3 linked regions of the Homo sapiens genome follow. The protein of the gene in region 1 purifies or fractionates together with the protein of each later gene. This does not show direct contact. Each region holds a gene or a part of one and is shown on either strand. Other genes may lie near its edges.

Evidence for each region. Proteins that work in one complex are often made in the same cells at the same time.
Region 2: the proteins of TMPRSS11E (region 1) and GATM purify together in Homo sapiens (affinity purification with mass spectrometry; one large-scale study listed by BioGRID and IntAct). This does not show direct contact.
Region 3: the proteins of TMPRSS11E (region 1) and RAB4A purify together in Homo sapiens (affinity purification with mass spectrometry; one large-scale study listed by BioGRID and IntAct). This does not show direct contact.

The regions. Positions count from the first base shown.
Region 1 is NC_000004.12:68,453,963-68,457,462, forward strand, and holds part of TMPRSS11E (transmembrane protease serine 11E precursor), read left to right. Parts: intron 1-3,500.
Region 2 is NC_000015.10:45,365,045-45,368,544, forward strand, and holds part of GATM (glycine amidinotransferase, mitochondrial isoform 1 precursor), read right to left. Parts: intron 3,217-3,500; coding exon 3,026-3,216; intron 1,465-3,025; coding exon 1,327-1,464; intron 1,167-1,326; coding exon 1,002-1,166; intron 1-1,001. UniProt on the Homo sapiens protein: Transamidinase that catalyzes the transfer of the amidino group of L-arginine onto the amino moiety of acceptor metabolites such as glycine, beta-alanine, gamma-aminobutyric acid (GABA) and taurine yielding the corresponding guanidine derivatives.
Region 3 is NC_000001.11:229,288,111-229,291,610, forward strand, and holds part of RAB4A (ras-related protein Rab-4A), read left to right. Parts: intron 1-618; coding exon 619-733; intron 734-3,500. UniProt on the Homo sapiens protein: The small GTPases Rab are key regulators of intracellular membrane trafficking, from the formation of transport vesicles to their fusion with membranes.

The sequences.
Region 1 (3,500 bases):
GGATTCCAGCCAACAAAATAGAGACTCCATTGGAAAGAAAGTATTCATATGCTGACTCTTATGGACAAGGGGCACTATTTGATTTTTCTGGTGGCTGTGTGCCTAACCAAAGATCAAGGTTTCTGTTATTAGAAAAAAAAGAATAAATATTTGGGATAGGCGTCTAGGAGTTTCTAGTATAGCTGTATTAAGTTTGAATGGTAAGAGGTATAGCCCATTGTGATGAACATAGGCTGGTGGATATATAGTTTTGAAGTGTAGGCAAGTGAGCTGAGCTGCAGTTATAGATTTGGTAGTCATCAGTATATAGATATGAATTAAACGCATGGACATTGGTAACTAAAAGTATTTGTTCTTTTGGGTAAAATAATGCATTTCTTATAATTTTTATGGTATTAATTTGCACAGAAATCCTACTTTATTCTAATATGAACCTGAGCTTATTTCACTATGTTATTATTAAATGCCAATATATTAGAACGTAATTGTCAAGGTGAGTATATAATAAAAAATTTCATAAATTTTATGTACCATCCAAAAATTAAAACTGAATTCTTACATATATTTCAGGTCGATAACTGGGGCAGAAAATTCTTTAATCAGGAAAACTCACTTTTCATTTTGGAAGAATTATTTAAACATCGAGAGGGTCTATACATTTTTCAATTTCTCCTCATTGCTGAATTAATTCAGATAGAATTTTGTTACATGTAGAAATTTCTAGACTGTCTAAAGAATTCTTGGTGTATGGTTTAGAGTGCTTTCTAAGGAAACAGCAAGCCAGAGGACACAACAAGGTGTCAGCATGTGGCCCAACTGTCACATTCAGGCACATTTTAATCAGGGTCTAGAGATTTTAAAAAGTTGGTGTATAGTAGTTATACATATTTTGGGGGTATCTGTGATATTTTGATGCTTGTATGCAATGTGTAATGATCAAATCAAGGTAACTGGGATGTCTATGACCATCTTGTGTTGGAAATATTACAGTTCTCTTCTAGCTATTTTGAAATGCAAAACAAGATATTGTTAACTAAAATTTCCCTACTGTACTGAATGGTAGAACTTATTCCTTCTATCTATACATTTGTACCCCTTAACCAACTTCTCAATACAAGTAGTAAAGTATGATTTTCAAAGTCTGGCTTTCTCAGGTATGGTATTTAGATTGTTTCAAATAACTTGTAGTCTCTTAGTTTGACTGCAAATTATTTCAAATTATCTGACATTGTAGTCAACAGAAAAATGAGGCATTTGAAAAATTGCCTGAAGTCTGATTGTTTAACAAATGCTGAATTTTAATTAGGATATGTAACTTTTTGTGTTATGTGAGGCATGGAACATTAGCTTGGATGAAAATTGAAGACCATTTAGATCAATTTAAATTTCCGCTGATTTTTTAACATGTGAAGAAAAGGAGAGCTCTCAATATCATACAAGTTGGGGCTCAGGGGATGCTGGAACTCGTTTGATGTGGAGTATGCTCTCAGATTTCTCATCTGTTTGAACTAACACTAAGACATAGGTTACTGGTTTTACAGTTTAGATCTACTTCCATTCTATCATGCAAACTTTCTTGGAGTCATCTAGACAATGTCAAGAAGAAGATTTGGTAGGAAGACAGCTAAAATTTTAAAAAGTTTCTGAAAGTCTCAAGCTATATATTAGCAGCCACAAGAGTGTCTCTAGCTCAGGTTTCTCAATCATTTTTCTTCTGATACACTTGCAGTGATATCAGCACACTGCTTGTTAATTCTTATTTTTCTTCCACATTTTGAAGTGTGTAAAATTCCCTATGATTGGCTGCAATGGCATCGCTCGTTAACTTTGCTGTGGGATATTGTTGTGTATAAAGTTGCTCAGGTAATGCCAGTTTATTATCTTGAACTAAAAAGAGTTTGAGGAAAAGAAAGCAAATATATTAGTAGAATTCAAACTTCAGTAGCTTAGTTTAAGTCTATAAACCCATAACTAATTACTTAATAATATCTTTAATTTTTTTGCAACCCACCTATCTGTATGTAGTTGCAAATTTCTAGAGATCAGGCCAAGTGTCAACTTAAATATCAGTTTGTAGTCACCTGTGCTGTACCATATTTAGTTGGGAACTTAATAAAACCTTGATGATAATCACAGTGGAGGTCAGAGACATTCCTTACTGTTGAGTTGCCACTAATATTTATGTAGTACACCTATCTAACAAAGTCTATTGATATCATATGCAATCTTCACAACCTCCTTTTAAAGGTAAGGGAAAGATACTGTCACGTAAGTTTTATGGTTGGCTAAACAGAAATAGTTAAACTCTGGGTTTTGTAACTTCTCTATGAGAACTAGCCGTAATTATTATGGTAGGGAATGCAAACATTGTGATTCAGCCCAAGCGCCTGGCTGATGCTATCAGATACTTATAGATGTGTTTTATCTTCCAGTGGATAGGACAGAAATATGTTATTTGTAATTTTATGTGGAGTAATTTGCTTGTATTTCTTCTTTTTTTAAAAAAACAGCAATGAAAATATATAATCCATGCACGTATATATGATATTCTGTTTTATTTCTACTGTGGATATTTTTATAGTCCTGTTCTAGAAAGTGTGAGAAGGATTAATTATGTCACCAATGCTTGCTGGTTTGGGCTTTTCACAAAGTAAAACACATCTCAAATACTTTTGTTGATAGGATAAGCAGGCACAATCCTATGAGCTAAGCTACGGTCAAATACATATCATATGCCAAAACAAATATATAGACCAATGGAACAGAACAGAGGCCTCAGAAATAATGCCACACATCTGCAACCATCTGATCTTTGACAAACCTGACAAAAACAAGCAATGAGGAAAGGATTCCCTATTTAATCAATGGTGTTGAGAAAATTGGCTAGTCATATGCAGAAAACTGAAAGTGGACCTCTTCCTTACACCTTAAACAAAAATTAACTCAAGATGGATTAAACTTAAATGTAAGACCTAAAACCATAAAAACTCTAGAAGAAAACCTAGGCAATACCATTCAGGACATAGGCATGGGCAAAGACTTCATGACTAAAACACCAAAAGCAATGGCAACAGAAGCCAAAATTGACAAATGGGATCTAATTAAACTAAAGAGCCTCTGCACAACAAAAGAAACTATCATCAGAGTGAACAGGCAACCTAGAGAATGGGAGAAAATTTTTGCAATCTATTTATCTGACAAAGGGCTAATATGCAGAATCTACAAAGAACTTAAATTTACAAGAAGAAAACAACCCCATAAAAAAGTAGGCAAAGGATATGAACAGACACTTCTCAAAAGAAGACATTTATGCAGCCAACAAACATATGAAAAAAAGCTCATCATCACTGTTCATCAGAGAAATGCAAATCAAAACCACAATGAGTACCATCTCATGCCAGTTAGAATGGCGATCATTAAAAAGTCAGGAAACAACAGATGTTGGAGAGGATGTGGAGAAATAGGGACATTTTTACACTGTTGGTGGGAGTGTAAATTAG
Region 2 (3,500 bases), on another chromosome or scaffold:
ATAAAATCCCCAGATTAAAGTTAAAAAGTAACAGAAATGTTACAGCTTTTAAAGATAGTCTTAACTTTTCTCAGGTTTCAGAGACTTAAAAAACCAAAGATACTGTCCTTAAGAAATTCTCATTTTAAAAATTGAAAAATTTCCTATTTAGTTACAAGAAAACAAAAATGTGACTACATCAAACCCACAGTCCTTCTACTTCTTGCCCATCATTTTGTATCTAGGACCATGGTATAAAGACAGTTGTTAGCTATGCATTCTCAAAGAACCATATTGTCCTTAGTGACCTTTTACAACTTAGCCGTCCCTGTGTTCACATACCCACTTACTATACGAATAAATGATAATAAAATGAAATGAATAAGTAGTCATGGTCATCGGGTTTAAAAATAAAAAACAGAAATGAACAGTGACACAGTATAACAGTGGTTTTTAAAAGTTGTACTGCAGCCTTGCAAGTAACAGAAAATCACTCATCACCTAACTGGAAGTAGGAGGCTATGGACAGAAAGTAGGAGGCTGCAGGTGAAGGGGATAGACCAGCTGCAGTGCAGTGGCTTCACTTTTCCCTACAGAGCAGGGTTGGCCAAAGGGAGGCTACCCCACTGTAGAGGGAATACAACCACTGCCCAGTGGCATTGCCCTGGCCATGCAAGGATGATCTTGTCCAAAATTCGCTGCTGTGGAACCACTGTTGCAAGTTATAACACCATCGTTTGATAAAAATACACACATATGCACAAACTTGAGGCTCTGACAACAGCAAGTGGCCAAAGTCTGATGATCCCATACTAATTATTGTGTCAACTATGTATATTTCTGCATGGTGGACATCTTGTAATAAGCCATAAGGAATCCAATGTTTGATCATAATAATGTTGAGTACTGCTGAATCTGTCATTTAGAACCATTAGGAACCATGGAAGTGCTTAAAATAAAAGTGGCAATTATTTTAGTTACTAGATTCTGTTGCTTTTCCAGAGTCCCAAGAAATCTCTTACCTGGTGACATGGTCGGTCAGGGTTGGAAAGCACAATACCAGGTCCAATGATGTTGAAGGTAGCATCAATATGCATGGGATTGGGATCTTTAAAGGAGATGATATGCACTCTGTAGTCTGGAGCAAGATGCCTACGCATCCATTCAATGCCTAGGTAGTTTGTAACCTGAAAACAAAAGAAAGACATACGATCGATAAATATTTGGTTCTATGTCTAGAAAACTAAAAATATTCAAGGTGAAAAAAATTTAGGATGAAAATATTTTAATTTGGAAGTAAAGAATACAATAATATAGTGTGAAATTTCAGAGGCAGCCTGCGTTCACCTGGCTTCTCTGTGCAAAAATATCTCTTCCAGCTCGAATGAAGTCAGCAGCATCAAAGCATGGCTCAAACTCAGTTGTCACAAATTTTCCCTGAGCAGCCAATTTGTGTCTGTCTTCTACAGAGTGGATGGGATAATCCTAATTGGAACAAGAATGAACACACACAATGCACTGGATCATGAGAAAATTATTCATAAGGCATACAGTACTAAGAAAATTAGTTTAACATCATTTCCCAAAATATTACTACTCAGTTCTAGACTAAAACATGCCTGGGAAAGAAGCGGGTCCATGATAAATAAACCAAAACAACAATAAAACAAGAAACTAGCATTATAGTAATTTCCTGATACAACAGTCCTCCTTTACCCATGATTTCACTTTCCATGGTTTCAGTTACCTTCAGTCAACTGTCGTCCCAAAACATTAAGATATTTTGAGAGAAACAGAGAGACCACATTCACCTAACTTTTAGTAAAGTATATTTATATAATTGTTCCATTTTATTATTCATTATTGTTGTTAGGCTCTTACTGTGCCTAATTTGTAAATTAAACTTTATCATAGGTATGTATATATGTACAGGAAAAAACAAAATATATAGAGTTCAGTATCAGCATCCACTGAGAGTCTGGAACATATCCCCTGAGGATGAAGGGGCACTATGTACTTAGAAAAAAATGGTACACACCAGGTGAGATGGCTCATGCCTGTAATCCCAGCACTTTGGGAGGCCAAGGCAGGTGGATCACCTGAGGTCAGGAGTTCGAGACCAGCCTGGCCAACATGGTGAAACCCCGTTTCTACTAAAAATACAAAAATTCGTCAGGCATGGTGGCATGCACCTGTAATCCCAGCTACCCAGGAGGCTGAGGCAGGAGAATTGCTGGAACCCGGGAGGCAGAGGCTGCAGTGAGCCGAGATCACGCCACTGCACTCCAGTCTGGGTGACAGAGCAAGACTCCATCTCAAAAAAAAAAAAAAAGTGATACAGAGGCAGTAACTGATTCTGAGAATATTCCATGAACCGTACGGAAAGTAAACAGGATGAAGTCATTCTGTTCTTTTAGAAAAGGAATTTGGTCCCGAGCTTAACTCATACCATAAAACGAGATGCCATGTTTCCCCTGCCAAATTTGATTGGGAGTGGCAAAACTAATTCATTATTTATTTCTGTCTTTAAACCCAGAAGCTATTTTGATTTTTAAATTTTTTTCTATAAAAGATCAAATGGTAACTGATTTAATAAGGGACATACATTTCATTTTACTGTGAATTTGAACTGTAGATCAGGTTCTTTTTCTAGAAGAAGAAAGTGAACTTCAGTCTAGTGACTTTTCTGGTTCCACTAATGAACAGTGGTACACCTGTAGGCAAGTTTTTCCCCATCTAATGGAATGATACTACAGTATGATTAGGGTTGTTGTGAAAAACAAACAGGATTGAGGATGTAAATAAAGGGTTTAACCCAGGACCCAGAACAAGGTAAGCACCAAAAAGTGTTAGCCATTATTATTATTATCATAGGATCATTTACTCTTATCATATTCATCATAAAATAATCACTTTTTAAAAATAAGATGATGTTTTCGGTTTCTAAAATGCATAATATATACAAGGTATCAGAGAATCTCTATCTTACTCTTTGTGGATCATTTAGAAAAGTTAGTAATAAGCTAGCCTATAATTAGGGACTCACCTGGTTATAAAGCTCATCAGCCATTGTGGGCTTAGGAGCTGTTGTCCACTTGGCGCCACGGTGGAAGTAGTCTTTGATAATTGACCTGTACGCTCGGTACTCAAAGAAGCGTGAACGCCATGCCATGGGAGCCTCGATAATCTCATTGCCCACAACTATCAGGATGTCTCGAGGCATTGCACTGTATAAACCTGTCAGACCAAAAAATTCCATGACAACTTCAGTAGTGTTAATTTCCAAGACAAAAAAGGTCTATATAGGGCCAGGCACAGTGGCTCATGCCTGTAATCCCACCACTTTGGGAGGCCAAGACGGGCGGATCACTTGATCCTCTTCAAGAGCAGCCTGGCCAACATGGTCAAGCCCCATCTCTACTAAAAGAATACGAAAACAATTAGCCAGGCATGGTGGCACGTGCCTGTAATCCTAGCTACTCGGGAGACTGAGGCAGGAGAATCACTTGAACCAAGAGGCA
Region 3 (3,500 bases), on another chromosome or scaffold:
TTGTTTTGGGGTTTATTGGAGGGTGTATTGTTTTGGGGTTTGTTGGAGGGTGTTTTATTTTGGGGTTTTTTGGAGGGTGCTTTGTTTTGGGGTTTTTTGGAGGGTGTTTTTTCTTTGGTTCAATTTTTTTCCTCCTTTTCCCTTTTCCTCTGCTTTTCCTTCCACTCACTGTTATTTCTTTAAAATATTTAACCATTCAAATACAGTAGTTGAAACTGTCTCCACCTCATTACTTACTGAGTTCCACACCTGTCACTGGGCGTTATGCCCTTCAGAATGGTACGCTGGTATGTCAGCAGTCACCATCTGTGAGCATCTTAACAGTGCACAGTTGGATGTGGTTCGGATATGGCAGGGCTACTTTCAGGCATAGGTTTTTAAATGTATCATTTGTTTGGGGGTTTTGAGAAAAATCTTTATGTCTCTTTGAGAATAGGGGCTGTGTGTATTATCTTTAAAACTAAATGCATCTTCTCAATGGAATGTTGGAGAAATGAATGGCTAGAGTAATGTCCATTCCCCATTGATGTAACTCTTGGTTTTAGTGTCACTTGTTTAAATCTATAAGCCTGTTAATGTTCTAAAATTAAATATGCTGTTCTTGTTTTTCTTTTTTAGTCAAAGATGACTCAAATCATACAATAGGAGTGGAATTTGGTTCAAAGATAATAAATGTTGGTGGTAAATATGTAAAGTTACAAATATGGGATACAGCAGGACAAGAACGATTCAGGTAGCTTTTCTCTAACTTAATAAAAATATTTGAAAATTTGATTTAAAATAATTGATGATATTCTCTCAATATATAAGGTCTCACTCCCTCCCCAACACACCCCTTCCTTGTCCTAATCTCAGAAACTTCATTTTTGGAAACTTTGATTGACAAGACAGCTAAAATTTAGGTTAGCTCTCTGCAGCATGGATTACTAAAGAATACAGGAGGATCTCCGCGCAACTGCATTATAATTCGGAGGCTGACCCATTCTCAGGAGGATGTGGCACTGTGTATTGTACAGTATGTTTCTAGATTCAAATCAAAGCACAAGCTTGTTTTTCTGTGTTCCTTTTTTAAAGAAGAACTTTTTAAAACCTTGTGAGGGTTTGTTTTGTTTTACATTAACTAGAGCATGTTCTGATGTTTGATACACACTCCACAAAATATTCTCTCCACACTTTAATTACAATAGGGTCATAACTGAGGCTCAGAATGACTTCAGTCACTGCAAATGAGGTTACATGTTTAGTATTCTGTAACTACTAAAGCAAGAAAATAGATTAATATTTTAGTTGTGGTTTTTGCACAGATGCACAAAGTCAGAACTGATATTCATAGTTTTATAATTCAGTGAAATAAAATCCACCCCATTTGTAAACATTTCACTTGAAGTTGAGTACATGTCGTATATTAAATAATTGAAGTTTGGCTGGGCACAATGGCGCATGCCTGTAATCCCAGCACTTTGGGAGGCCGAGGCAGACCTCCTCACCTGAGGTCAGGAGTTCAAGACCAGCCTGGCCAACATGGTGTAACCCCTTCTCTACTAAAAATAAAAAAATTAGCCGGGCGTGGTGGCAGGTGCCTGTAATCCCAGCTACTCTGGAGGCTGAGGCAGGAAAATCGCTTGAACCCGGGAGGTGGAGGTTGCAGTGAGCTGAGATCACGCCATTGTACTCCAGCCTGGGCAACAAGAGCAAAACTCCATCTCAAAAATTAATTAAGTAATTGAAGTTCAATAATTGCTTCAAAAATACCATAACCACCTTTAATCACCATCATTTTTCTGGAAGCATTGATTAAACATGGTGGATTCAATTAGACATTTATGTCTTCCCTCTCAGAACCCCACTGAAATGTCTGTTAAGTAACTGAAATTGAAGTAACTCAAAAAGGCCAAGATTGAGTGAGTGCACAATTATGATTGAGAGATTTCCAAAAAAATCTTAAAGATAGGAAGTAGATGGTGCTCTGACAGCAGAAGGAGCTCCACCTTAAGTACTGTAATGGGGGAAGCCATTTCTTCCTCTGGAGTCCCAGAAAAGGTCAGGATTTGGAAGCATCAGGTTCTACAGGAGGTAGAGGTTACAGAGGTTCATGTTTACACACGAAATAAGAGGTTCAGTCTTTTACGTTGAAATGGAGTCTAGACTCAAGGTCATAAGGCCCACCTGAGGGCATGGGGTCAGGCCTGAAAAGAGGGAAATTAAGTGAAAATGAAAGCCTCTGGCCCCCAACCCACCTCCCCTACCTCTTCCCTGGTCGCTGGCAGCCAGGTGTGTATGTCCCACATAGGAGAAAGGAGCCTTCTCTGCAGAAAAATGAATAGTCAGAAAGGAAAGGCTTGAAGGTAGTGACATTTTGCTTTCCCAGTCAAACAGCCCAGTCTCTATCCAGTCATCTGAAAGTGAAACCCTCCAAGCCCACCTGCTCCACCCACACATAAAGAGCTTCTTTTAGACTTTTTCATTCCTTGCTCTTAATGATCAGGCAGAATTTTGAAGAAAGTTTCTATAGCAAAAGAGAGAGCTCAAAGTAAAGAAGCTGGAACTTTGAGGGAGTAAGAAAAACACACTAAAACCACAGTATCCTTAGGAAGAAGAGCAGAGATTGCATTGGAGTATGTAATAGAAACAAAGTCATACTTAAAAAGAGCAATCAGAATAATATGTTAAATAAACTCATGGTGAAAAATGGGAGAGATGACATAAAGAATCCTCCAGAATTAATCCAGAAGATGCAATGACTATTAGGAGTTCCAGAAGAGAGAAGAGCAGAGAGAATAATAGAAGAAAATGTTTCACTGAAGGAATGAGATTCCAGATTAATTGGCCCACCTAAAATCAAACATAGTAAGGAAAAAGTCCAGACCAGAGCGTGCCATGTGAAATTTCAGAACACCACAGATGAAGTAAGGAAGACCAGAAAGGTTCCAAGAGGGAAAAAGCAGCCACATATAAAGTGTGAAAAATGGAATTGCTTTGCACCCTTCCACAGCAACATTGGAAGCTAAAAGAAATGGAAGCATTGCCTTCAAAACTCAGGGTGAAATAATTCTTCAACCTAAAATTCTAAACTTAGCCAAACTGTAAGTGTGCAAGTAAAGGCTGAATACCAACAGATGTGCAAGAAAGAGGAGGAAGCCAAGATTATCTTTCTCAGAGACTTCTTAGAAATGTACTTTCTTAGAAAGTTTAGGAGGATATACTTCACCAGGACAAGGGCATGATCCCAGAAAGAGGAAAATGAAGCCAGCAGGAAGATCCAGCTCAGAATGGCACAGGTCTAGAGGGACAGTGAGGGAAGACTAAGACAGCAGTCAGTATGTGATGGCACTGCCCTTCCAGGAGGACCAGGGGAACAAGTGAGGGGCTCTGTAAGAGCTCACGACTCTGTCAGAGCGGGGAAGAAACAGCTCTGAAATTCAGTTTCCTAAACCTTTTGTAGAAATGAGAAGAAAGAAACTGTAAGATCCATGAGTGTAAGGGTTTTTGAGTTTTCTGTT